Regions from separate parts of the Homo sapiens genome. Here all the other regions are linked to region 3. Evidence: fine-mapped expression QTL. A gene starts in region 3. Each other region holds a variant in brackets. All regions are shown on one strand. Distances are from middle to middle.

What was found. PIP is the estimated chance that this variant, and not a neighbour inherited with it, causes the effect.
Region 1: its variant is fine-mapped to the expression of ANK1 in whole blood (TOPMed, PIP above 0.99).
Region 2: its variant is fine-mapped to the expression of ANK1 in whole blood (TOPMed, PIP above 0.99).

Annotation. Positions count from the first base shown.
Region 1 is chr8:41,645,543-41,655,629 of GRCh38, forward strand. It overlaps NKX6-3 (NK6 homeobox 3), which reads right to left and starts at 5,275. Exons shown (of 3, transcript NM_001364841.2): 1 at 4,569-5,275; 2 at 2,524-2,693; 3 at 1-1,152. The coding sequence starts at 4,950. The coding sequence ends at 907. ANK1 (ankyrin 1) reads right to left here. Exons shown (of 43, transcript NM_000037.4): 43 at 7,683-10,087. RefSeq lists silencers at 1,018-1,247, 8,113-8,162, 8,183-8,252, 8,273-8,612 and an enhancer at 7,792-8,585. The variant C/T (reference allele first, on the strand shown) is at 6,854.
Region 2 is chr8:41,768,182-41,776,181 of GRCh38, forward strand. The region is part of intron 1 of ANK1 (ankyrin 1); the gene reads right to left. Among named protein-coding and RNA genes, the nearest start is that of ANK1, 25 kb to the right of the region's middle. The variant G/A (reference allele first, on the strand shown) is at 4,748.
Region 3 is chr8:41,792,657-41,800,656 of GRCh38, forward strand. ANK1 (ankyrin 1) reads right to left here and starts at 4,966. Exons shown (of 43, transcript NM_000037.4): 1 at 4,856-4,966. The coding sequence starts at 4,882. LOC105379392 (a long non-coding RNA gene) reads left to right here and starts at 5,122. Exons shown (of 3, transcript XR_949708.3): 1 at 5,122-5,723; 2 at 6,338-7,772. RefSeq lists enhancers at 1-600, 6,039-7,238.

The DNA of each region.
Region 1 (10,087 bases), 150 kb before region 3:
CCTTTCCTCCCCAGGTGGGATGCTTTTTCTCTCTGGGTGGGCCTGTCCTTATATCAGCACCAAATGATGCCCAGGTGGGTGGCCCTTGGGCACACCGTCCCCGCCTCCCCTCTCCCTGCACCCTCCCCTTTTCCCCGGCTGTCAGGATGAGGAGGGCACAGCGGTCTCAGAGGTATTGACCCTGAGGGTAAATCGGAGAAAGGAGGCCAGGGGGATTTCCGCAGCTCAGGGGCCGTCATCCTGCAGTGTCAGGGGCATTTTTTCTCCACTGGGATGTCCCACTTCCCCTCCTGGAGGCAGATTTCCTGCAGCCTGGGTTAGGTGCTCAGCTCTGGCCCCTCCAGTGGGACCCTTCCTGTGCACAGGTCTGAGGAGTGCACCTGGCCACTCACCTGTCTTTTCTTCTGCAGCCAGCAGCTGGCTTGGGGCCCAAGACTCTGGACTTCTGACTCCCCAGCCAGCTGCCTCCCTCCCTGGGAAGTCCTGCCCACTCCCCCCGCCCCAACAGCTGGATCACAGTGGCATGTCTGGGACCCCACAGCCAGTTTCTTGGCTGCAGAGCCTGGTCATTTTAGTCCTCTGTCCACTTGTGAATCTGCAGAACTGGCAGGCGAGGCCCGAGGAGGTGCAAGGGGCAGCGGCTTCCAGGTCTCAGGAGTGCTGTGCCTCCCTCCTGGCCTCCTCCTCCCTTAGCTAGGATGCCTGTCCCCTTTCCCTCCTTTTCCTCCTCCTCCCCCGCCTCCCCTCCTCCTCCCCTGCACCTGCTGCTCCTCCTCCACGCGCCCCTCATCCAAAGAAAGACTCAGTCCCTGCGCCCCCAGGAGCGTGGGGAAGGGGAGGGGAAGGTAGGCTCCTCGGCGTCCCCCCGCAGGCTGCAGCCAGGATCCCGGGCCTGGACGGCGGGCGTCAGACGCTGTGCGCTCCCAGGCTGAGCACCGAGAAGGCGGCGCGGTGCTTGCGCAGCAGCAGGCGGATCTTCTCGTCGTCCGAGTCGGGGTCCAGCGGCTTGTTGTACTCGTCGTCCTCGTTCTCCGAGGGTGCGCGGTCCCCGCCTGCGCCTGCACCCGCGCCGCCCGGGGCCCGGGGCGTGGAGGACGAGGGCTCCAGGGCGCTCTTCTTCCGCCACTTGGTCCTGCGGTTCTGGAACCACACCTGCGATGAGAAAGAATGTGAAGGGCACAGGGGCACAGCGCGCACGGGACGCGAGAACAGCCATCCTGCTTTTACAGCTAAACAAATGGCTCAACAACGGAGTGACTGTCACATTCACGTTTCTGTTGGGGAAGGACAATAAAATTTAAAAACGTGAGCGCGGCAGCCCTCCCCTCCGCCCCCCGCCCCCACCATTTGCTTCCTCTTCCACCGCCGCCTCCTCCCCCTCTCCCTCCCCCTCCCCCTCCCCTCCCCCTCCCCCTCCCCCTCCTCCTCCTTCTCCTCCTCCTCCTCCTCCTCCACCTGGGAACTCGGTGGAAGATGCGGAGTGCGCGGGTGGAAGGCTTAGCCCCGGTGCTCATTGGAAGGTGCTTATGAGCAGTCCCTACTCTGGGCTTCATAGACCCTCACCCTACTTCATAAATAATTGTTCCCCTAGTTAGTTAGAAAAGTAACGTAGGTCCATTGCTTGGGATAGTTGAAGAGGGCAGGAACGCACCCCAGAAGCAGAAAGACATGCAGGAGTGTCTGCTTCTTCCCCCCAGCTCTCGCCCCAGGGCAGCTGAGCGGCTGATGAGGAGGGCGCAGCGGGTTGGAGCTCGGGGAGGCCCCAGGGCCCTGAGCAAAGCCTAGACCCAGGTGCCAGCTGCCCCTGCTGCATCCTTAGGCCCGTCGCCGAGTCACTGAGCCAGCATCAAAGTGGGGAAAGTTGCCCCCAGACTCTAAGGCGGTAGAAACCGGTTTCCCCGGGTCTATTTAGGGGGCATTTGGGGCCCCTGCGTGTGGAGTGGGAGAGCCTGGGCTCACCCTCCCTAGCCCTGGCGTGGGCGACAAGGCTCCAGGCCCCTGAAGCCCATCTGATCCTGCTTAGTAGAAGGAGACGTTGTCTTCATCTTAAGGATTGGTAAACTGAGGTCAGCTCCTTTTGCTGACTGGAGCATCAAGCATGAATCTGGGCCAGAGACTGCCGACCGTGCTTGGAATTTTTGGCCAAATACGGGGGGAGAGGGAAAGCCTCAGGTTGGAGTCCCCCACATCTGGGGTTGAACCCCAGCTCTGCCAGCTCTCCCAGCTCTCCCAGCCGGGAGACACTGATCTTCATCTGCGAAATGGGTGATGATACCGACCCCCCGGGTTGCTGAGAGGATGAAATGAGGTGCCGCACATAAGGCTCTGAGAATGGGGCTCAGCCTTTCCCGGCTATGGTTAATTACCACAGGCTCCAGGGTTAGGCAGGCAGGCAGTGCCCAGACACCAGGACAGCTGCCCTCTGGGGGGCTGCGTTGTGTGGCCACCTCTCTCCAACGCAGTGGCCTCCTGTCCGGCAGGCTCCTCCCTGCAGGGCAGGTGCCATCTCCCGCACAGACTTACCTTGACCTGCGACTCGGTCATGCCCAGTGAGTATGCCAGCCGTGCCCTCTCGGGGCCAGCCAAGTACTTGGTCTGCTCAAAGGTTTTCTCCAGGGCAAAGATCTGGTGCCCCGTGAAGGTGGGCCGGGTGTGCTTCTTCTTGTGTATGCTGTCACTCAGGGGGTCTGGGGCTGGCAGGAGGAAGGAAGTGTGGGGTTAGTAGAATAAGTGGGGACCCTGCGGCTAGGCACGTCTGGCAGGGCAACCACCATGCCTGCCCCTCTCCCTCCTGCAGAGGTTTCCAGGACACCAAGATTCCTTTCCCCTGAGCAGCATTCTTGATATTGGGGAACAGTGACTGTGACCTCTGCCCCGCCTGGATGGGCAGGGCTCCGAGAGGGCAGCTGCCCTAGTGTAATGGGACTTAGGGGCAGCAGAGCCTCATGCCTCTCTGTCTAAAGTTCTCAATACTCGCTGATGTTGCCTTCCCCTGAGGGGCAACAGGAGTTCCCTCTCTGTCCCAGGGATGTCCCTTCAGGTCACCCTCCTCCTATAATTAGGGACCAGGGCCTGTGAATTCCCTCCACCCCCGGCTTCCGCCAACTTCCTTGCTCTTGAGACTCAACTTCCCAGGTCTCCAGGAAACCAGGGAGGGGCAAACCTGACGCCCCAAGCTGCCACTTCCCCATGTCACCAGGCCTGGAAGTTATGTGGCTTCAACCACCCTGGAGAGCCTGGCACAGAGGCCAGAGACCCTGACCCCCAGCCTGGCCAGGGCAGCAGGCTCGGGAAGGAGCTGTGGGCAGTGGTTCCCACATGTCAGGCCTCGTTCTGTGCAGTCTGACAGCTCAAGTTACAGGTGAGGAAACTGAGGCACAGAGAGAGGAAGAGCCCTCCTGAGAGATCATGTTCAAGTCTCTCTGCCTTTGCCTTCATTAGCCACTGACTTTCTTGGCTATGTCCCTGTGTGTGTACCTGCATTCAGGACTGAAGAGGTGGTGTGTGGGATGTGGAGAGGGGAGGGGGAGATGGAGGGAAGAGAGAGTCAGCTGAGGCTTAAAGCACCCCTGAAGCCAAGCCTAAAACAGGATCTGAGAGAGGAGGCCTTCACCCCCAGGGGCACAGCGATGGGTGGCAGCCCATGGAGGGGTGGCTGTCAGGCACTGTGACCGGCAAGGCAGAGTAGCAAATGGGGGGACAGGTGTGCTTTTGGGGTTCCCTAGGTTGGCCCCAAGCCCCCATTGGCGTAGGAGAGCCCGGAGATCAGACAGAAATGGAGGCCCCTGCCTGACGTGGGCAGGGCTTCGGTGGCACGGAGAAGATTCCAAAAACTCTCACCTCCCTGCCTCCCAGCAGAGCCTCACCTGCCCTGCCACCTCCTCCAGTAACCCTGACTGGCATCACGGGCCCACCCTCTGAAAACCTTGGCTGAGGGATGGGTCGGCTGAGAAGAGGCCCCCTGCTTCCCCACAGCCAAGGCCAAGTTCAGCTGGACTCAGCAGCAACTCCCCGAGACAGGCTACTTGGTGTGGCTGCTGTTGCTAGAAACCCGAGGATGTGGTGGGCAACAGCCCCCTGGCTCAAAGGCTGGACCCGGATGGGGTCAGGGTGCGTTCTGCACCCTTGAGTGATGCCAGGGCTCTCTGGGAAGGTGAGCTAGGACATTTTCCTCACGGGGGTAGCATTTGCCTGCTTTGGGTGAAGAAGTGGTTGCATGGGCCCTGGGCTGCAGAAGCCAGCTGGGCTGCCTACTGGACCTCGTGCAGGGCAGGCGTGGGCTGTGGGGCCTTCTCTACATCTGGAACTGCCGGGGGCCCTAGGAGGGCAGCTGAGGTGGCTGGCATGTGAGGGGGGTGGCTCAGACACCTGTGTCCAAGCACTGCTGGATGGGAAGGAGGAGAGGGTGGAACTCAGCCTGCACTGAGCTGAGGCTACGAGTCCAGGGGTTAATGGCGACTGGGGGAGAGGGCGGAGGTGCAGGGTGCCCGGGAGGAGGCCCCTCCTCGTCCTCTGCCCCCCGGGGCCTGGCGGGTGCCGGGAGGTGGCTGGGGAGGACCCGTACTCACTGTTGCTGCACTGCCGCCCGCCTCGCCAGTCTTGGCCCGTGTCCGCCCAGCAGTTCCGGGTCCGGGTCGGGTACTCGTTCCCAGCCTTGGAAAAATTCCCTACCTGGGGGCTGTAGTAGACCCCCTGCGAGCTGAGCCCCCCAAAGCCTGCCACGTGGGGGTAGCCGGAGAGGAGGCTGTTGTTCGGCGCAGCCACGGGCCTGCTCAGGATGTCCGTGATCCCGTGGGGGGTTCCGGCGGCCAGCTGGGGGCCCAGCCCTGGGGGGCTGAGCTTGTAGAAGGAGTTCTGCACAGAGTACTGGCACACCGGGGCCTTCATCTCCGGAAACTGAGCCAGCGGCGTGTTGTTCAGCAGGAACGTCCCCTGCAGGTTGGACTCCATGATCTCCCAGTCAGGACAGGGAAGGCTTCTCCAGGCCCCTAAAACCCAAGAGCCCACTCTCTAGCCCCAAATCTCATGGCAGGCCTGGAGGCTTAGGACCGTCTCCGAGCTCCTGACTGCCTCCCACCTAAGGCATGGGCCAGGCCCTGGCCCAGGAACCGGCACCCGATCAGCTGCTCGGAAGTCAGGTGCTCGGGGCAGGTGGGAGGCCTCCCCAGGGCTCCTGGCCTCTCTCCTTGCCCTGGCCGGACAGGGTGGCCCCCTAAGCCTCAGCTCAGACCCCCTTTCTGCCTCTGAGTCGGGGGACCCTCCATGAGAAGTTTTAAGTTCAGAGAAGGAACATTTCCCTGATAAAGATACGGCCCATTAGAATACAGGCCGGAGACTGGCTGAGCCGCCGGAGCCGCGCCGCCATTGGTCGGGGCGCACACGGGCCTCACATTGGCTTTTCCTAGACAAATTGCACTTTGAAAGATTGACTGTACAATCAGCCAGGGTGTGTGTGTGTGTGTGTGCGCGCGCGCGCGCGCGCGCGCGTGTGTGTGTGTGTGTATGCGCGCGCGCGCGAGAGAGAGACAGAGAATTAGCTCTAGAAGCCCTACTCATCGCCGGAGGGTCCATTTGCTCCCCGCAAGTCTAGCATCTAGGAAAAGGTGAGCGTCTGGGGGCCCCTGGAGGCTCCCAAGGCAATTGGAAGTCACTGTTCCTACAGCTGCTCCCCTAGGGAAGAGGAGGCTGGACTCAGAGGCCACTGTCCGGAGCTGCGCCGGCCCCTTTATGTGCACATGTCCAAGCTCCACAGGAGAACGCAGCCGCTTCCTTCCCTTCCGCATGCGGGGATGGGGTAAGTGGCATAAGATGGGGGTAAGTGCGGGGATGGGGTAAGAGGCTGAGTGGCATTGCTTTCTGGGGGATGCAAGTCCCTGTGGCTGGCTTGAGAGCCTAGGGTGGGAGCCTGCTGGGAAGAGGGCAGCGCGGGGCGTAGGCAGCCCTGACAGTGCCGGGGTGTGAGTCCTCCAACTGCAGGAGGCTGAAGAGAGGGCCGCCCTGCACGCATGTTCTTGCCTCCACCTCTGGTCGGCCTTCCGTGACCTCCCTATCAGAATCTCTTCCTCATTTGTGCCTCTGCTGGAGCAATGGCCATGCTCTGTCTGGCGTGGTGCCCGGGTTTGAAATCCCTGATGGCTGAGAGGGTGGTGGAGCCCCGTGCCGGGCACTCCGTCGGTGCTCAGTTAGTAGTTGATGCAGTGGACTGGGCTGAATCACAGAACATGCATATGCTTTTTTTTTTCTCGAATAAATTTTTACAACATACAAGGCTCTATTGGGGGAAGCTCTCATTTTACAAACAGGAAAACCAAGGTATAGAGGAATTGGAGCCCACTTTCCAGGTACATGGGTGATTTCTGGACCAGGCAGGATTCTTCCCTGCAGTTTTTCTCTAAAACTGGAAACTAGCATGCCACTGGCCTGAACATGTAAAATGCTAGGAAAGACTGTGACTGCCAGACAGATGGACTTCTGCTCCTCTCTGTGCCTGGTGGCCCCAGAGCCCTTCCTGACCAGGCGTGGGCTCTGCAGGGCTTGCTCTCTCACTCCCCAGAGGCCGCCCTGGTAGGTGGGAGACTAGAGGCACTGCTTCACTGAGCTTCTCCTGGGTTTCCAGGCCGTCTTGGTTTTCAGTGGGGAGCAGAGGACCCAAGGCTCAGGGCAGGATTCCTTCTCATGCAGAAGTTGACCCTCTGTAGCACAGGGATTTAGGTTATGCAAGAAAGATCTCACAAAGGGTGTGGAATGATTCCCTACAAATTTGGTTTAAAGAGAAAAGAGCTACGTCTTCGTCTGAGATGGCTTTGCCACCAGGTCGCGTGCCACAGCCATCTGGTAGACCTGGTTCTGGTTC[C/T]CGGTGTCACCACCCAATTCCCCCCAGGCAACTGTGATTCTGAAACTGCATTTTTAAAAGCCCCATGGGTGCTGCAGATGACCTGCTGCGGTTGCCCACTGGCCTGAACGGCCTGTCCGATTCCAGGAGAGAGGCTGGGAGTGGGGTGGGGCTGGGGTGCTCCAGGGGCCTTGGGATTGTGACTCCGTCATCCCCTCATGATGGGAATTTATGTGGCAGGAAAGCCGCAGCCAATGATTTGATTCTTAATTAATGCCAAGCCTGACAAAGGCGTTGGTGTCTGGCGCCCCTAGGATGAGAAACTGAAGAGACTTTAGCAACCACCTAATCCATTCTCCCATTAGAGAGATGAGGAAACTGAGGTCAGCTTGGTGACCAGCCTTGCAGGAAGTGTTAGCAACTAGTTAGGAATAGGGCAATTTTTTCCCTACAGCAAGAACAAGTTCTTGAACTTTGAATGGCATTGAGTACTGGGGCCAGATGCCTTCCTAGGGAATGCTGGGGGGCCCCCTCAGTGCATGCCAGCTGGGGGCCTGGCCAAGAACCCTGGTGGGTTGTGGTGGCCCCTCCCCAGACCCCCAACTTCTCCCCATCTCATGGGAGCCATCAGGTGGAACAGAAAGCTACTCTGCCACCTCTCTGGAGGCATCTCTCAGGTGGGTGGTCCTGATTAAAGGGTTGTCCAGGCTTCTGGGAGGACTGGGCATTGGCGGGCTCTCTGGGACCTGAGCCCCACCCATAGACTCCTTCACATCACAACCCAGGCTTTACGCTGGCCTCAGCACCCCTAACCCCCCAAAGACGAGCGGGAAGGAGAGATAGAGCCCTGTGCCATTAGTCCATTTCTTTATTAATTTTGACATTGGTTCGGCTGGTGAAGGGAGAATGGTCTATACATCAGAGTAGGGTAGGGGATTCTCTCCCATAACAGAGCATGTGGGAGAGTCAAGAAAAGATCCATTTTCATAACAATTAAAAAAATCAAGGTAATTTCAAAACTTCTAAAAAGCGTCTAATGTGCAGACTGCAGCATTCTCTAGGCATCGTGTGGAGACCCCAAACTCCTCCCCTAACGGCTCCTACTAGCAGCCGGAGCGTGCAGCCATGCCAGCCGGAGCAGAGGTGCCAAAGCGGAGTCTGGAGCTGCGGGGTCCGCGGGGGCGCTAAGGGGGCTACTGGGTTGGCTGCAGCAGCGACCTGGGAGAGGAAGGTGCAGGATCGAGGCGGGAGAGGCGAGCCCTGAGCCCAGCTTCCTTGGGCCGTCACCGAATCGGTCCCAGCCGCGCTGTGCGGCCCCCCTGCCGTGGCCCCCGGGATGGGGGAGGATGGAGGGGGGCGCCTCTGCGCCCTGGAGGCCGGGCCGGGGTGGCCTCTGGCGGAGACGGCAGCCGTCCGGGCTCGCCCTGCAGCTCCTCCGACGCAGCCTCGGGGAAACTCAGGCCCGGAGCTAGAGCTTCCTCTCCCTGCCCGCCCCTCTAAAGGAAGCAAAAGCAGCCCCACCCCCGGCCGACAAGGCGCCTAGGCCGCCCCGGGGCCTGCCTGGCCGGGGGTGCACCGGGGCGGATTTGTGTGGGAAGCAGGGCCCCTCTCCGCTCACAGGCCCCGCGGCCAGGGGGCCTCTGACGTGGAGGGGGCTTCTGTGCTACTTGGAAGGTTTAAGTGTGTCCCGAGGACACTCCCGCAGAGCGGCGGGGCGGACGGGGCCGGGCCGTCCACACCGCGGCTCCAGGGGCGAGAGGAGCCAGCCCTGTCTCTCTCTCCTGGCCCTGGGGGCGCCCGCCGCGAGGGCGGGGCCGGGATTGTGCTGATTCTGGCCTCCCTGGGCCGGAGGCTCTAGTGGAACTTAAGGCTCCTCCCTGATGGCACCGAGGCGAGGAACTGCCAGCTGTCTGTCTCCTTCCTGCCTTGACCCAGAGCCTGGCCCCGGCCTCTGGGCGTCCAGGCTCTCCGCCTCCGACTCTACTCTCACCGGCCATGCGGTCCGGGGAGCCCCCTGGCTCGCCTCTCCAAGAGGCCACAGGGGCTGGGCAGAGGGGAGGCACTGAGGCAGGACAGGGAACAGCCTCGAGCCTGGCACCTGCACCCAGGGTCCCCAGCCTGCAGGCTGCCTGGACTTAGAGCACCAAGTTCACTCTGGGAGACCCTGGGTGGTCCTGACTTCTAAGACCTGGCAGATACATTCACTAGCCCTACTCCTTTCCTTCCTCTTTCACTGAAAGACAGGCCACAGCTCCTTCTCCTGCAGCCGCAGAAGTCCTCAGGAGCTGCGCTGTCAGGCTCTGTACGTACTGCTAAATGTTTCTATTGGTTTGCATAGTATTTATTGTTTTTCATATACACAAGGCTGATTACTGTACAGTTTACACTTTGAACACGGACTATGATATAGTGCTTGAAGACATAGAAAACCTCTTCTCTATGGACATGCTGGTGCAATCCTGGGTCAGCCACCGGCCTGTCCCCCAACTGAGAGAGGAGACCCTTTCAGATGGGGTCCTGGCTCCCTTTGAGTCCTACAGGTAAGCCTGGGGGTCCTCGCCTCAGATTCTTAAGTCCCTAACACAAGGAACCCCGAATGCACTCTTCAAGGTAATGATTTTCCATTGGAAGATGATTCGTATTGAAATTGGCAGAGAGAGAGACAACATAAAAAATTCCAATTTATCCACAGCAGAGTCTATACAGCTTCAGAAGTCACAGTAAAATCTGTGTGTAGATTCAGTGGAGGCGAGTGGTGTGTGTGTGTGTGTGTGTGTGTCCTGAATGTCATGTAGAGCGATCTGGGAGGAGCGTCACCAGGGAGTCGAGGGGGTGTCACAAGTGGAATGGAGGTATGTGGGTTGGGGAGGGTGGGCAGATGAGGACATGGCTTAAGATTAAGGTGTTAAACTGATTTCATGCCTAGTTTTCTTTTTTTTTTTTTTCTTTCCAGGAAGCCCACATGGATTTCTGACAGATGAGGTTGGGAAAAAGTACCCTGTACGAAGTCAAAACAATTTAAAAAAAAAACCCCAAAACCAAAACCCATCCCCAGCCACAAAAAGCCCTCATTCACTTTTGCGTTCGCAGGCTCTCCTGCGCTTGTTTTCTATCCCTCTCTCTCCCCGCTTCTTGCTGCTTTTGTGTCCTGGTTCCGACAGATCAGCTGTCATTGCAAGAGGCAGGATTGAAGCCTGGAGGTCATGCGTCTACAGTCAGTCATTCATGCCAAGAGGGGACTAGCAGGAGTCCCTT
Region 2 (8,000 bases), 24 kb before region 3:
GACTAGGGGTGACATCATCAAGAGTAGGCTCAATTCAGAGGGATGAGGGAACCGTAAGTAAAAGCAGTGTCAGGTAACTGGGCCCCTGGCAATATGGCTTGTTCAGATCATAGGTGTTTTGTATCATAAGCCGGCTTCTTGCTGGCTTCAAGTCACAGTCAAGACACAATACCAAATGCTCTTTTCCTCTCCCGCTGTCCCCTGACATTGTACAGTACAGCTGCGCGTTGGTGAGGAACTAGCACGCTCAGCGCCTATTAGCTGATGGACATACTGCATTATCTCATTTAATCCTCACAGCCACCCATAAGGTAGGCAACACTACTACAGTTGGATAAATGAAGAAACTGAGCCCAGGGAGGTAATGGGTGGAGACCAAGGTCACCACTAGTAAATGGTGGGTCCAACTGGTTCTAAGCCAAATTGATCCAAAGCCCTGCCACTGGCCGCACCAGCAAGATTCCTAACAATAGTGTACTCAGCGCCAGGAAGAGATAATGTGGGGGATGATCTTGAAGGATCATAATCCCAGCATTTTGGGAGGCTGAGGCGGGGGGATTGCTTGAGGCCAGGAGTTCAAGACCAGCTTGGGCAACATAGTGAGACCCCCTGTCTCCACAAAAAAAAAAAAAAAAATTAATTAGCCAGGCAAGGTGGCACATGCCTGTAGTCCTGGCTACTCAGGAGGCTGTGACAGGAGGATCACCTGAGCCCAGGAGTTGGAGGCTGCAGTGAGCTATGATTGCAACACTGCGCTCCAGCCCAGGTGACAAGAGTGAGACCCTGTCTCTAAAAAAATAAAAATTAAAAAAGAAGAAAATACTGTGAGAGTGTGTTACAAAGCCAGGTACGCTTCAAAGCTATGCAGCAATCAGGGGGCATCCCAAGGAAGTGGGATAATCAAAGATCAAGAGAAAAGGCCAGGGTGTTGCCAAAAAGAGGGATCTGAAATGTAATAATACAACTCCTCCCCATGGGGGTTAAAAAACTGGTATTTGAAGATGACAATGTGAGAATTCTCCAGGCATAAGATCCTCCACAGCACTGGGGCTGAACTTGAGGATGGGCACCCTCTCGAAGGCAGCAGCCTGTCTGGATGTAAGTCACACAGCCCCTTCCCTCCCCAGGCACATGCTGCTAAAGCCCAGCTCACCCTCCAGGTCTCTCGCCTTGTACCTCTGAAAACCACCTTCCAGATTTGCTAGAATCCTCTACACAGAGAACTCCAATTAATAAATGATGGTTACTGGAACATCCCTGATCACAGCCCAGTGGAATATCTCAAGGGATTCTAATGCACTGTTCCAACATTAATATTTAGAGAGAGAGAGAGAAAATTCCCCGCTCAGATGAGTAAATAATATATATAATACTTTTAAAAACACGAATGCAATTGACTTGCACAATGAACTGAAAGAGATACTATTTTTTAGCAACTATTTGAGGATTAATTGACACACTACGAGTTGCACATTTAAAATGTACAATTTGCTAAGTTTTGGCATATGTATATCCCTGAAACCATGGCCACATAAGATAATGGGCATAATCACCTCCAAAAGTTTCCTCATGCCTCTTGGTATTCCCTGCCTCCTGCCGGCCAGTCCACATCCTTGTCAAGACTTGGTATGATCTGTCTTAATTCAGACATCCTAATAGATGCACCACATGGCTAATTAAAAAAAATTTTTTGTAGAGAAGGGGTCTGTTGCATTTCCCCAATAACTGATAATATTAAACACCTTTTTCAGGTGCTTATCTGCCATCTATATATCTTCTTTTTTTTTTCTTTTTTCTTTTTTTTTTTTTTTTTTTTTGAGGAAGAGTTTAGCTCTTGTTGCCCAGGCTGGAGTGCAATGGCATGATCTTGGCTCACTGCAACCCCCGCCTCCCAGGTTCAAGCGATTCTCCTGCCTCAGACTCCTGAGTAGCTGGGATTACAGGCATGCACCAACATGCCCAGCTAATTTTGTATTTTTTTAGTAGAGATGGGATTTCTCCATGTTGGTCAGGCTGGTCTTGAACTCCTGACCTCAGGTGCTCTGCCCGCCTCGGCCTCCCATGTTGTTGGGATTACGGGCGTGAGCCACTGCGCCCAGCTTATATATCTTCTTTGGTGATACATCTGTTCAAATCTTTTGTCCATTTTTAAGTTGGAATGTTTGTTTTCTTATTGAGTTTTGAGAGTTCTATCTATACAGAATATCTGTCTTAAAGGTGAGATAAACAGATCTTACAAGTAAAATATTCAAAGCTCAGTAGCAAAACATTCCCAGTCGCATTTTGGTACTCGGTTCTTATAATTCTTAAGCTGTATCTTTCTTCATATTATACAACGCTGTGGGTTATATACAATCACAAATTAAAAGATGTGATAGTCATAGTGGACCAGAAGCTGAATACAACCCACAGCACTCTGAGTGTAATGGGAAAGATGCTGAAGTATTATCAGAGGACTTTAGTTCTCAGAACTGCCAAGAATTCTTGACATTAGTCATGACCTCCTTAGGGTTGAGGCTTTGAAAAACTTAGGCAGGCGATGAGTCAGGCAAGGCCCAAGAGGAGGAGAAAGAACACAACTACAAACATGTTGCTCAGTGAGGCCTGAGGCTAAAGGAGCTGAGATGATAAAGCTAAGGGAGAGAGCCCTTGAAACATAAATTCCAGCACTGCAGCCTGGAATGCCACATTGGAGCTAATTATATGGTGCCCAGTCCCAGGTGTGGTGGCCTGCCACCAGGACTGAATTCTAAATGTCTCCCAGGCAGAGACAGCTTGGTTCTCATGTTCCAAATTCCCAGTCCCTCTCCCTTGCTTTCCCCACCTACTCCTCTATGTGACTGGCACAGTGCCGGGCAGTGCTAAACACAGTGATTACTGACTGGTGTTAGAAGAATGATGTCCCCAACACTTCCATGAGTCATAAAGAAACTGTAAGTCTTGGGGTTCAATTGCTATGGAAAAGATTTAGATTCCACAGAAAGAACTTTCCAGCTATAAGAGATACGTGACTTAATAGAACTCTTTATTCAGAAAGGGTTTAATCTTTGCAGGAGATCCTTCAGGATGGCAGAAAAAAAAAACCTCAACATTTGATCTGGCATATAGACCACTGGGTAAGCTGTACGACTTGGAAGGGTCTCTTTGGGCCCTAGGGATTCAGAAAGCTAAACTATTGTTCTTTTCCCCATAACTGACTGTCCCCTCAACCTTCCATCACAACCACACCCTTAGACCACAAATAATCATCCTGCTTCTCCATCTGCATTTTGTTCATACTTCAAGGCTGCACGTTTTAACGTAGGCATTTAGTGTGCTAAGAACTTGCTAGTGAGATCAAAACAAACCACCAGAAAGGAATTGATGGGCTGAAGAAAAGGCTAAAGACTCTCGGCAGACACAGGCCACTGTTCTAGCCTGTAGCTTCATGGAGTCTTCAGGCTTTTCCCGTCTTGCTAAATATTTTACCTACTGTCTCCTTGCAGGTCTCTCTGCAGACAAGCATAATGAAAAGCTGGAGGCCTCGCCTGTGGGGTTCTGTCCTCTGGGCCACATGCAGCTATGCCAAGCAGGGATGATGTGGGAGAGAAGAAAGGGAAGAAATAGACTATGCAGCACTTAAACCCCCAGCTCGCTCCTGGCTTGATGCAGTGGGCTGTTCTCAGTATAGACAGGGACTCTGGGACACTTGATGGGCTGCTGCTGCTGTCAATTCCTGCAGGGATTTCACGAGCTGGAAGAACACAAGCCTGCAGCAAAGAATCCCATGCGAGTGGGATTCTCAGGCGACTCTGCCTCCCCAGGATGATTTGGGAGAACAGGTCCGGGCTGCTTCAAATGGTGGCCAGTCAGAGACATGAAGTGGCTCCTCTCTACAGGGACATCAGAGCTGAGATCAGGGCAGCCCCAGGATTCGAGAGAAGGGCATCCTGGCAGCTCAGGCCCTGTGGCAATGACCGTCGCGCTTAACCCTCCTATGCAATCAACTCAAACCCAGAACTCAATAGCAACAACACTATTTGCTTTCTGGACAGCCTCTTAAGAGGCTCTAAATCAGTAGGTCTCCCACAATTGAGCTGTGCAGCTTTTGATAAAGGAAATGACTTTTCTGAGCATTGATTTCTTCATCAGTAAAGTGAAAATAGCTTCACCCATCTCTCCAATATTGGGAGAATAATGTAAAATGCTGACCACCACTTCTGGCACATTTGGTAAGTGCTCTATCAATGACAGCTGATGCTCTTTTTTCCTCCTCCCCTCCATTTCTTCTCGACTAAAGCTTTTGTCAAAGGTTAATGTCTCCCCCAGAGGTGTGGGTTGTCACTGATCTTGCTTCAACACTGGAAAATCAAGGCCTCATCACTGCTTACCCAGGGTCAAACATCCATGGTCAAGATCAGGATCCCAAGAAATCTCAAAGCTCTACCCTGCACCCAGACCTCTTGGGCTTACAATGCACCCTTTTCAATGCCCATATTCTCTGCAGCAAAGAAACAATGTGTGGACTCAGTTGTGCCCCCACGCTCCCTGTCCGCAGCTGCCCTTGCAGTGTCCTGCTGCTGGCTGTGGCCAGCTGACCCGTTGGGCTCTCCTCCTGACCCTCCTTCCATCTGTTCCATCCTCACCCACCCAAGGAGCCGCCCCTGCTCCTAGAGACTCTGGGCACCACTGATAAGGGTGGGTACCAGGAACTCCACCCTTTACCGAGAAAGGCAGGCTGGTTTATCGCCACTCAGACCCAGCCAGC[G/A]ACCACCCTGGGGAGTGTGTCAGCCACCAGGAGCATCGCTGTTGGGGAAATGTTATTAACTAGGAAGGAACTTTACAGAATGTTCCACACAAATGTCACATTGAATTCAATCAGAAATCCAGCCTGACCCCCCCTAAACCTGGTCATTCCTTCTTAACCTTAATGGCAGTGACAGAAGAAAGGGAGAGAGGAATGGAGTCTTGGTTGTTTTTCTATTTAACTTTGTGTAGGGAGTGCCCAGTGGTCAATTAAGGTGTCCTGGGCACCCGGCCTGGCTGGAGTAAGGGATGGCAAGTGCGGGGGTCTATTTAGGGAGGTGATCAGAGCCCGGATCAGGCCCCACAGAGTTGGCACCAATCTCCATCATGTTCTTTTTAAGAGGGTTGGCAGCCCTGGAGTCTATTTTTAAACCCATGAGAAAGGTGCTGTGTGGATTCCAAAAAGGGCCAACATTAAACCCGAGATCCCTGGAGGAGGGAGGGAAGGGGGGAGGCACAGCTGAACCTAGGATTTTCTCTTCACACACACAGGGGTTCCCCTTATTCCTGGGATCAGATATTGACTGTCCTTCCAAAGGGATCTCTTGGGTTACAGGCCCACTCTTTGGCATGGCTTTGGTGGAATTCGACTCCTAACGAGCTCGTGAGTTGGAAAGGGTTTTGCACACCGGGTCTCTTTTTCAGAATTGAGATTTTTTTAAATCCCTCTACCCCCAGTGTGAAAACTCCATGTGCTTTTGATATATCCGGCATCTCCCCCTTCTTCCTACTTTCAAATCACATGTTCTGGAACCCCCGCTCCCTCCTGCATGCACTGCAGAGCCCACAGCCGAGAATCTACAACAGGAAGATCCAAGGAAAGTCTAAGTTCCCCACGGCCACGGTGCCCAGCTCCCCAGAAACCCAGTCCCGGTGCTGGAGAAGGATGGGGAGTGGACCCAAGTGGCAAGCCTGCGGGGGACAGGATTATTTTCCCAATAGTGAGAAATAAACAGGCATCCAAACGCCACTGTTTCCCATCAAATAACCAGATGAAGCGAACAGAATGTTTTATGTACAATAACAAATTTCAGCTTCAGTATCTGTGTCTCTTTTTGGATAAGAAATAGAACCAGAATTCCTAAAGAACAAAATGCCTTGAGATTAAGCAAATGCTTCTGCTGAATAGTTCTGGGACCACCCAGGACCCCCTGGGCAGGGAAGTAGGAGACGAGGTCTCTTCTCATCTCCGCTCAACTCAGAATCCCCAAGCCTAGCACAGAAGCACCACTCAATACATGTTTCCTGAGCAGAACATGATGCAGTTTTGTGCCCCATGTCAACCAGGTAGGAGCTCCCACCAGTCATGCTGAAAACAACAGACATGAGTTTAAGCACAATGCTGGCCGCACAACAGAGGCTCCATAAACGTTAGCTGGATTGGAATCCAGTCAACTCAGATTTCTAAATGAATCAGATGTTCGGGGCTAGTTGACTAAATTGTCAATGTCCCCACGTGCTATTATAGCCCCTGTAGAAACAGCCTGGGGACCACTGTCCTCTTCTGGGCAGGGAAGTTTCAGGTGCTTCCCATCCCAGGGCCAGGGCCGTGCTGCAGAAAAAAGCCTCCACACCCCAACCTGCCCTGCCCATCCTTTCCCCACAATCTCCATTAGTCCTAAATTGCCAGTCCAAGCCCAAGAGAGCAATTGTTTCCTCAGTCCCAAGGCAGCGAAGCAGACAGCTCTTCAATAGTTCACATCTTTCTGCTGAGGGTGGGAAGATATTGGGGTGTCTTGTGGGTGCCTAAATAGAATTCCAAGTGCACCCGCATCACCAAGCACCCTGGCCCACGCCGCAGAGCATGCCACATTTCCCCACTGCGCAAGGAATGGGCTGCATTTAGAATTGACACTTCAGAACATATTGTGGACTGGGGAGCCGAGACTAGAGTGGAATTACACACATTTTGGAAAATGTGGATGAGCGGCACTGCCAGAATGGGCCCATTTACTAAACTACCTCCAGTGTTTCCAAACATTAGGGAAACCTTCCTCTGCGGCCTGCTGGTATGCGAGGAGGAGGAGCACATACTGGAGAAAATGCAAAATCAAAATCATTGGGAAGGTGCTAATAGGGAAAATAGGGACTCTTCTTTTTTTTTTCAAGTTGCCAAACAGGCTTAAGTACTGGCAGTGAACCCCATGGCTCCAGAGTTTCTGAAGGATGCCCAGGCGTTGGACAGCCCTGCATGGCACGCTCTTCCTCAGCAATGAAGAAAGATTCCCACCCTTCCTTAGAAATGCAACTTTGCCTGATATAAGCTGCCATCTGGAGCAGGCGGGGCCGACCAGGGGGTACCCTGAGACTCCTCCTTTATTTGAACAATTTGCCCCAAGGGACAGAGCCAGGATGGGTGGCCCATTGCCAGCCAGAGAGACCTGCCCAAGATTCCAGAGGGGCTTGTGACCCTGAAATTTGGGGTCTGTGCCCCTGGAGTTTGTCCAGCCTCTGGAGCAAGGCTTCCCTTACATGGAGAAGGTAGCCTTGAACCATCCATTGGGAACTAGGCCTGGAAGGCCCCGTCCACACCCTCTAGCCCATGATGATTCACCGCAGAGACAATGAGATACAGAAGTGAGAGCAGGAAGGGGGAACTGATTTGAAGATAATAATAATAAAGCTACAGTTAGCAGGGCATGGTGGCTTATGCCTGTAATCCCAGCACTTTGGGAGGTTGAGGCAAGAATATCACTTGAGGCCAGGAATTTGAGACCAGCCTGGGCAACATAGCAAGATCTCTGTTTCTCCATACACACAAAAAATTAAAATTAGCCATACATGGTGGTGCGCACCTGTAGTCCCAGCTACCCGGGAGGCTGAGGTGGGAGAATCGCTTGAGGCCAGAAGTTCAAGGCTGCAGTGAGCTATGATCCTGCCATGGCACTCTAGCCTGGGCAAAAGAGTGAGACCTTATTTCTAATAATAACAATAATAATAGCTACAATGTGTGAGCCAGGTATTGTTCAAAGCATGTTAGATGTTAACACATTTAACCCTCAAAACCACCCTACGAGTTAACAGCTATTATTATTCCCATTTGACAGAAGCAGCTAAGGCACAAAAACATTAAGTCATTTGTCCAAAGTCCTCCAGGAGTAACATGATGCCTGATGCCTGGGGTGGTGCATGAAACACAGTAAAGGGGCTGGCCCTGGGCTTTGCACCATTCTGCAACCTAAGGTATTTTTAGGGTAGAGGGGAAAACTGAAATT
Region 3 (8,000 bases):
GGGGAGGTGTGGAAAATGAGGAGGGCCCTGAGGGAGGTTCTGATGAAGTGCAATGAGAGTTCAGAGGAAGGAGAAACTATTTTATGAATTTTAAAAAATCCCAAGAGCAGAGTATCTAAAAAGTCATCCACGCAAACCCTAGAGCAATAATTTTCAATCGCAGGTTTGTGAGCAAACTGCTAAGCAGTCATCAACCACGAGGTGTTCTGCAAATAATTTACTGTTCATTCATGAATGCAACCAACATTTAATGAGCATCTACCATGTGGCAGGCACTGTGCTAAGTGCCAAGGACACAGCAGTGAACAAGGCAAGCCTGAGTCCCACCCATGTAGAGTTTCTGAATATTATATAAAAATGTCCAAGTGCAGCCTGTTGAAGGAACTGACAGTGTCCTGGAGCAATTATTGTGGGAGTTCTGAATAAGAAGTAGTCCAGGGCCGAGTGCGGTGGCTCATGCCTGTAAACCCTGTGCTTTGAGAGGCCAAGGAGGGAAGCTCACTGGAGGCCAGGAGTTCAAGACTAGCCTGGGCAACATAGTGAGACCCCTGTCTCTACAAAAAATACAAAAATTAGCTGAACGTGGAGGTGCACACACCTGCAGTCCCAGCTAATCTGGAGGCTGAGGAAGGAGGATCACTTGAGCCCAGGAGTTGGAGGCTGCAGTGAGCTATGCTTGTGCCACTGCACTCCAGCCTGGGCAATACAGTGAGACCCTGTCTCAAACAAACAAACAATAAAAAAAAATAAATACAACAGTGCAGGATCAGGACAGGAGGCATCTCAGGAAGGAGTCTACACTGTCCTAAGAACACTGTGAAGCCACTGAAGATTTAAAGCAAGAAAGTGAAGTGGTAAGATTTGCCCTTCTAAAACAGCACTTTGGTTGTGTGTGAAGAATGGATTAGAGGGAGTGAGACCACCTGTAAGAAGACCACTGTTGCTTTTTAAAACTTAGAACACATTCAAGGTTCCCCTCTATCACAGCTCTGCTCTTGCACACTTACACCCGAGCTTTCTTGACAGCTCATGCTCCAGAACCTTGTTCCGCTTTATCCATGCCAAGGTCCCAAGAAGACCATGAAGGATCTTCTGCAGCTGTGATTGCAAATTCATATACTACATATGAATTGTGATTTTATAGTGGCTCCCATCTCCTTTTAAATATAACCAGTGGTAAATTATTAAGTAGGGAGCATCTATGGCACTATTTTCTCATTAAATAGGAACGTGTAAGAGAGAGGGGGATTATTAATACCCAGGTATAGCCATGAAATATGTCATGCAGAACTATGTCAACAACCAGCCCTATGTATCCCAGAGGGAAGCAAGTTGAGAACGGTTGTACTACAATTGCATGATAACACCATTTGCCACACTATATCAGGTGGTTTAATTTGGTAGCCCATCCCTACAAAACGTGAATCCCTGGTTTCAAAGGCATTAGGAAGTCATAGGTATAGGCAGAAGTCAGATGGTGCCATTTGCCTCATACAAATACTATCTAATGCTTCTCATCTCGCTCAAGGCAGAAGTAAAATCCCCACATCAATGTACAAAGCCCTGCATCTTCTGCACCTGTGCCCCTTTCCCAATCTCTCTGACCTCACCTCCTCCTGCTCCTCCTGCCTCACTCTGCTTCAACCACACTGGCCTCCCGGTTATTCCCATGACACACGCCTGCCTCAGGACCTTTGCATGTGCTGTTTCCTCTGGAGTTTGGCCTGGCTGTTTCCTTCACCTCTTTATCCAATGGCACCTCAATGAGGCTGTCTCAGAGTACCCTATTTCAGTTGCAGAACTCCCCACACATCCTATTTCCCTTGCCCGCTTCCCTCTCCCTCAATAACAGGACTGACTTTTCACCTTTCAACAGAATGCAGTTTACTCCTTTATTTTGTTTTTAGCCTGTTTCCTTCCCCTGCTGGGAAATAAGCTCTGCAAGGACAGAGTTTTTGTCAGTTTTATTCACTGCTATATTCCCGGTGCCCCAACAGGACCTAATACACAATAGGTGCTTCATAAATGCTTGTTAAAGGTTTTTGTTTGTTTGTTTGTTTGTTTTTGAGGCAGAGTCTCACTCTGTCACCCAGGCTGGAGTGCAGTGGCACCATCTCGGCTTACTGCAACCTCCACCTCCCAGGTTCAAGCGATTCTCCTGCCTCAGCCTCCTAAGTAGCTGGGACTACAGGCACACGCCACCACGCCTGGCTAATTTTTTTTATTTTTAACAGAGGCGGGGTTTCACCATATTGGCCAGGCTGGCCTCGAACTCCTGACCTCATGATCCACCTGCCTTGGCCTCCCAAAGTGCTGGGATTACCGGCGTGAGCCACCGTGCCTGGCCGTAAAGGTTGTTAAACAGACCTGGAGGACAAAGGTTTTTAGTCACTTCACCTTTAGAAAACACTCTTATTTTCTCTGTTCATTTTGGCAACACCAACAACTGAAACCCTGCTTTTCTAAATATATTGCAGTTTGATTAATCTCAAAATAAGTCAGCTGGTTTTGCAGAGACACTGGCAGAACCATTTTGGGGTGAGAGGTGGCAACCTGGGTTTAAAAACTATTATAGGCCAGGCGCAGCGGCTCACGCCTGTAATGCCGGCACTTTGGGAGGCTGAAGCGGGTGGATCACCTGAGGTCAGGAGTTCGAGACCAGCCTGGCCAACATGGTGAGACTGAGACTTAAAAATACAAAAATTATCCAAGCATGGTGGCACGCACTTGTAGTCCCAGCTACTCAGGAGGCTGAGGCACGAGGATTGCTTGAATACAGGAGGCAGAGGTTGCAGTGAGCCAACATCACACCACTGCACTCCAGCCTGGGCAACAGAGCGAGACTCTGTCTTAAAAATAATAATAATTATTATTAAATAAATAAATATAAAAACTAATTACAGCTGCTTGAGCCACGAAAAAGAATGAAATCATGTCATTTGTAGCAACGTGGTTGTAACTGGAGGTCATTATGCTAAGTGAAATAAGCGAGGCACAGAAAGACAAATACTGAATGTTCTCAGTCATACATAGGAGCTAAAAAAGTTGATTTCTTGGACCTAGAGAATAGAATAATAGATACCAGAGACCAGGAAGGGTGGGTGGGGGGCAAGAGAATGAAGAGAGATTGGTTATGCGTACAAACATACAGTTAGATAGAAGAAATAAGTTCTGGTGTTTGATAGCAGCTTAGGGTGACTATACTATAATAGCAACAATACCGTGTACATTTCAAAGTTACCAGAAGAGAGGACTTGTAATGATACCAACACGTAAAAATGATAAACATTCAAGTCTATGGACACCCCAAATACCCTGTCTTGGTCAGTACACATTCTATGCATGAAACAAACACTCACATGTATTCCACAAATATGTAAATTATTATATACCAATAACAGAGAAGAAACTAATTATAATTGACCCATAAAGTCAAGGGTGAGTTGAGTCTATGGATCCTGGTTACAATAAACGTCTTCAAGCCTCTGTCCCCTTTGCTAATGTTTTCATAACCGAGTAACTCACTTCAGCCTCACAGCAGACCCATTTCCCAGACAAGAAAACTGAGACACAGAGAAAAGTGGCTTGAGGCTGTAACTTGATTTGTGAAAGAAGGCTAATTTTACCCATTTTTTCCATCGGCCATTCCTTATTCCTGCAAAACACTTGCGTTTGAGTCTGAAGACAGTTCACACATTGCACGGGACACCTGCAGTCACCTGCCTCCTTCCAAAGTTGGCTATGATCAGGTCTCCAAGACTCACCCTGAACCTCTGCCCTAGAGTGGTGCCACAAGAGGAAAAAGACTCTACCAACTTAACCTGAATTGCTTGCCGCTGGTGGAACTAAAGTGGGAGGCCCAAGCTTCCTCTACAGAGCCTCTCTCTCCTTAGAAAAAAAAAAAAAATCAACCAGGAAAGGCAAATTGTACAGATGCCACTAAAAAGAAATTCCCGCTTAGTATTGCTTCCTCTGCACCCAGCGACTTTTAGACAAGCAGAAGACGAAATGCCCTGCCCGCGACTAAACCAGACTCCTTTTCACTTACTACCCTTTCAGCGTGTGTGTGGCCTGATGTCCAACTCTGGGCTCTGAATCCATCACTAAACTAAGAACCGTACCCAACAAAGGACACTGACACATGGCACAGGCTGGCCGTGCTGCCAGGCAGAGATAGGACGGGTTCTATCTACACAGGGAGAACAAGAAGGCTGGAGTGGCCTTGCTAACGCGCCATTATCACTTGAAAAATATCCATGAGAGCCTATCTCCCCAGGCCACGCCGCCGCTCTTTCCCTTCCTTCGTAGACATATTTCTCTCCATGAATTAACAACATAAATTAAAAGAACCGAGCAGGTGTGACCATGAGACCACCGGCCTCCGTGAGTCTTTGAGAAAACAAGCCAAAGTCCCCTTCCAAATGACAGTGACAGCCCCCTAGCCGGGTGGCCCACCCCGCAGCCTGTAATAACACACCTACAAAACGCAGTTTAGCAGACTCAAAGGAAAGCCTCTAAGATCTCAATAGATTTGGACTATAATCCAAAAACCATCCCTCCCCAGCGCTATTGCTGACAGGACATAATTCAGAGACCCAGGTAGTTGGAACTCAATTTGACAGCAAATCTCTGGATGTAAAAAATATGAAACTGGCTTCAGCGAGTAGGGCAGAGTCCACCTGCTGCCTTCAGCTACAAGGTCGATGTGCCGCTATGCTAAGGCAGGGAGCCCACGGGGAGGCGAGGCGGGTGGGGTGTGCAAAGCTGCTCTTGCTCGCGTGCTGCCTACTGGCGCGGCCTGGGTGGCCCCCTCCTGACATCTCCCCGTCCACCCGAGCAGCCGCCCAGTACTCACTTCGCGGAAGCCCACAGAATAGGGCATGCCGGTCTTTCAGCAGGGGCCCGCCGAAGGGCCTTGGGGGCTTGAGGAGGAGCAGCTGGGGCTGGCGGACTCACCGCAGCCTCTGCGGGGCCTGTGACGTGCGGGCCAGGCCCCCGAGGGCCTTATCGGCCCCAGAGGCGCTTGCTGTCGGGCCGGGCGCTCCCGGCACGGGCGGGCGGAGGGGTGGCGCCCGCCTGGGGACCGCAGATTACAAGAGCACCTCCTCCCCCAACCCCAGGAGGCCCCGCTCCCCAGGCCTCGGCCGGCGCGGACCCCTGGTTGCCCCGGGGTCGAGAGCAGCCGGGGAGAGCTGAGTTCAGAGCCCAGAGTTGGACATCAGGCCACACGCTGAGAGGGTAGTAAATGAAAGGGAGTCCGGTTTAGTCGCGGGCAGGGCATCTCCTCTTCTGCTTGTCTAAAAGTCGCTGGGTGCAGGGGAAGCAATACTAAGCGGGAATTTCTTTTTAGTGGCATCTACACAATTTGCCTTTCCTGGTTTTTGTTTTGTTTTGTTTTGTTTCCTAAGGAGGGGGAGGCTCTGTAGAGGAAGCTTCGGCCCTGGGTGCCCCTGGGTTGGGAGCAGTCGGGGAGCGCTGAGCCAGGGCGCACGCCCTGTCGGCGCTGCGGGTGTGGGGCGCAGGAGTCCTTCTGGCCGGCCCCTCCGCCCCCCGGGGAGGCTGGAGCTCTCCAAGGCCGGGGAGCCTCCCGAAGCGCGCTGCCCCCTCTGTTCTCCGCGTGCTTTCACTAGGGCCCCATGCTGCTTAGTGGCCGATTTGCAGGGAATCTGGGCACAATCTTAATAACACCAGGGCCAAAAATAACAACGTTCCTGGGAACCGAGGTGAGTCACCGCAAACAGCGGCTAGGAGGGCGTGGGATGGCGCGGGCAGGGGGGCGCCCAGGCGGTCCCGCAGCTGCCAGAAGGTCGGGGCTGCCCACCAGCCAGGCTGGACCATCCCAGGCCAAGCTCCTGCAGGCCTGGCCTAGGAAGCCGCCTTTTGCAACGTCCGCCCGTCCAACAACGGGATGAGATGTCATCTGCCCAGAATGGCTTTATCAGTGAGAACACCATATCCTGGAATGGCAGTTGGTGGCTGGCAGAGGGAACAGGTGACCCCGAGGAGCTGAGCTGCGGGGCCAGGGGCATGGCAGCCTCCCTGGACCCTGGGGGTGGTGCCATTAAGGTGGGGGCTGTCTCCCTCCATGGTTTCCTCTAGGGGTGGGTGTCACCGCTGGGGGCCTCTGGTGCAGTCCTCCCTGAGAAGGGTCTCTCCAGCCTTCCTCACGTGATGCTTGGCCTCCTGCTGGGCCCACGCTGGTCCAGGTCCCCTGACGAGGCCGCCATCTGGCTTTAGAGCTTTCCCGCAGCACCAAACTGGCCTTGCCATGAGGGCACAGCTGCTGCGGAAAGATGCCACCGAGATCAGCTTCATGACCCGTCTGTGTTTTCCACAGCAGCTGGAGCGCACCCCATGGACGCTGGGCCATCTCCCCGGGGACTAGTGCCTGACAGAGCTGACAGAGTTCTAGGCCACATGTGGGCTAGAAGGAACCGCCATGTCTACCACAGCACAGTCCTTAAGCAGGAGCCTTTTGAAGCACTTGGACTCAAAACAATGGCTGTTTGTTGTTGTTGTTGTTGTTGTTTGTTTGTTTTGAGGGAGCCAGAAAGCTAAAAAATGTAAAAGAAGCAGGTCACATTAGACATGATTTCAGACAGCCTCCCCGAAGGACAGATGATCTCACTTGGCAACACATACTGGGCCAGGCTCACTCATGAGGGGGCAGCGTGGCATGCACCCCACTCAGGGGCAAGAATGAAGCTTAAATATTAGCTGACTCAGAACATAGCAAGTGCTCAGTAATGGCTTCTGGAACGAACCCGTGGTTGTCACCAGCAGGAGTGACGAAAGCTAGAAGCCGTTTCACCATCCAAGGAAGAGGAGGAACAATATTTTTCTCTTTGGAGTTCCCACACTCAGAAGAGAGAACACCAGCATATGAACACAGAGTGTCACATGATGTAGGAAACATCCTGTAGGTAGAGAGTATAATTCCAAAGCTTAGGATCCTGCTAGTTCCTTGTGCAGTGCTTCCGGTGGGCAACATGGTGCCTCCCCAGTCCCTCAGGCTTGAGGCGGGCCAGCACAGCTTCTCTGGGAGCCAGGTCATTTCAGAATTTAACCCCAGAACTAGGTCACCCCAGGCAACACAAGGCTCCTCTCCCTTGGATACAGGAAGCGGAGGAAAAGGCCAGGCATGCTCAGGGGCAAACCAACACCCAGGTGAAAGGGAGCTGGGCTGGTTTCGGGGAGCAGCCTGGTTTCAGGGAGCCGGACTCACGATGTGCTTGAGACCCTCAAATTCACCCCTGGAAGCAGCTGCCCCCGTGACAAGGAACTAAGGACAGGCATGTCATGGACTGTGAATTGGAGTGACATTTGTCCCTCCCTTCACCAACAGACTGCCCCAAGAGCTTCCCAAGTTATCTGCCATAGAATACCTTGTTTCCCTCGAGTCTCTGAAAGGGGGCCGCAAAAGCTGTCCCCACGCTGGAAATGCAGGGCCAGGCTTTTAAAGTTTTGCTCCCGGATTATGAGAACACCTAGAAAATTCAGTGCTCCTCTCCACTCCCCCAAACCCCTTCACAAGCCCCCACCCTTTGTTTAACAAACATATATATAGTGCTTTCCTGGTACCAGATACTACTTTAAGCACTTGACAAAATATTTAGTCATACATAAAACCCTTATAATTACACTGTAATTCACTCTCGTCAGATCCAGTCATTGTGAAGAAACGGAGGCACGGGGAGATTAAGAGAGCTACTTAAGAAGACACGGTGCCAGGTTTCTACCCAAGCCATTTGGATCTAGGGTCTGGAGGCCATGTGAGCCATTTTGCATTAGATTAACGCTTTAATTCAGTTCACAGTTAGACAATATACGTTCCCCATCTATATCTATACCCATCTGGAAGGCAACAAAAAGATAATAAACTGATAGTGTCATGTGCCCATGACCCAGCTAACAAAGAGGCTCTGGGTTCCAATGCCCCAGTCTTTCATGGGATTCCATCGACCTCATGCCCTGCTCCCCTCCCCAACAGAGATGGAAAC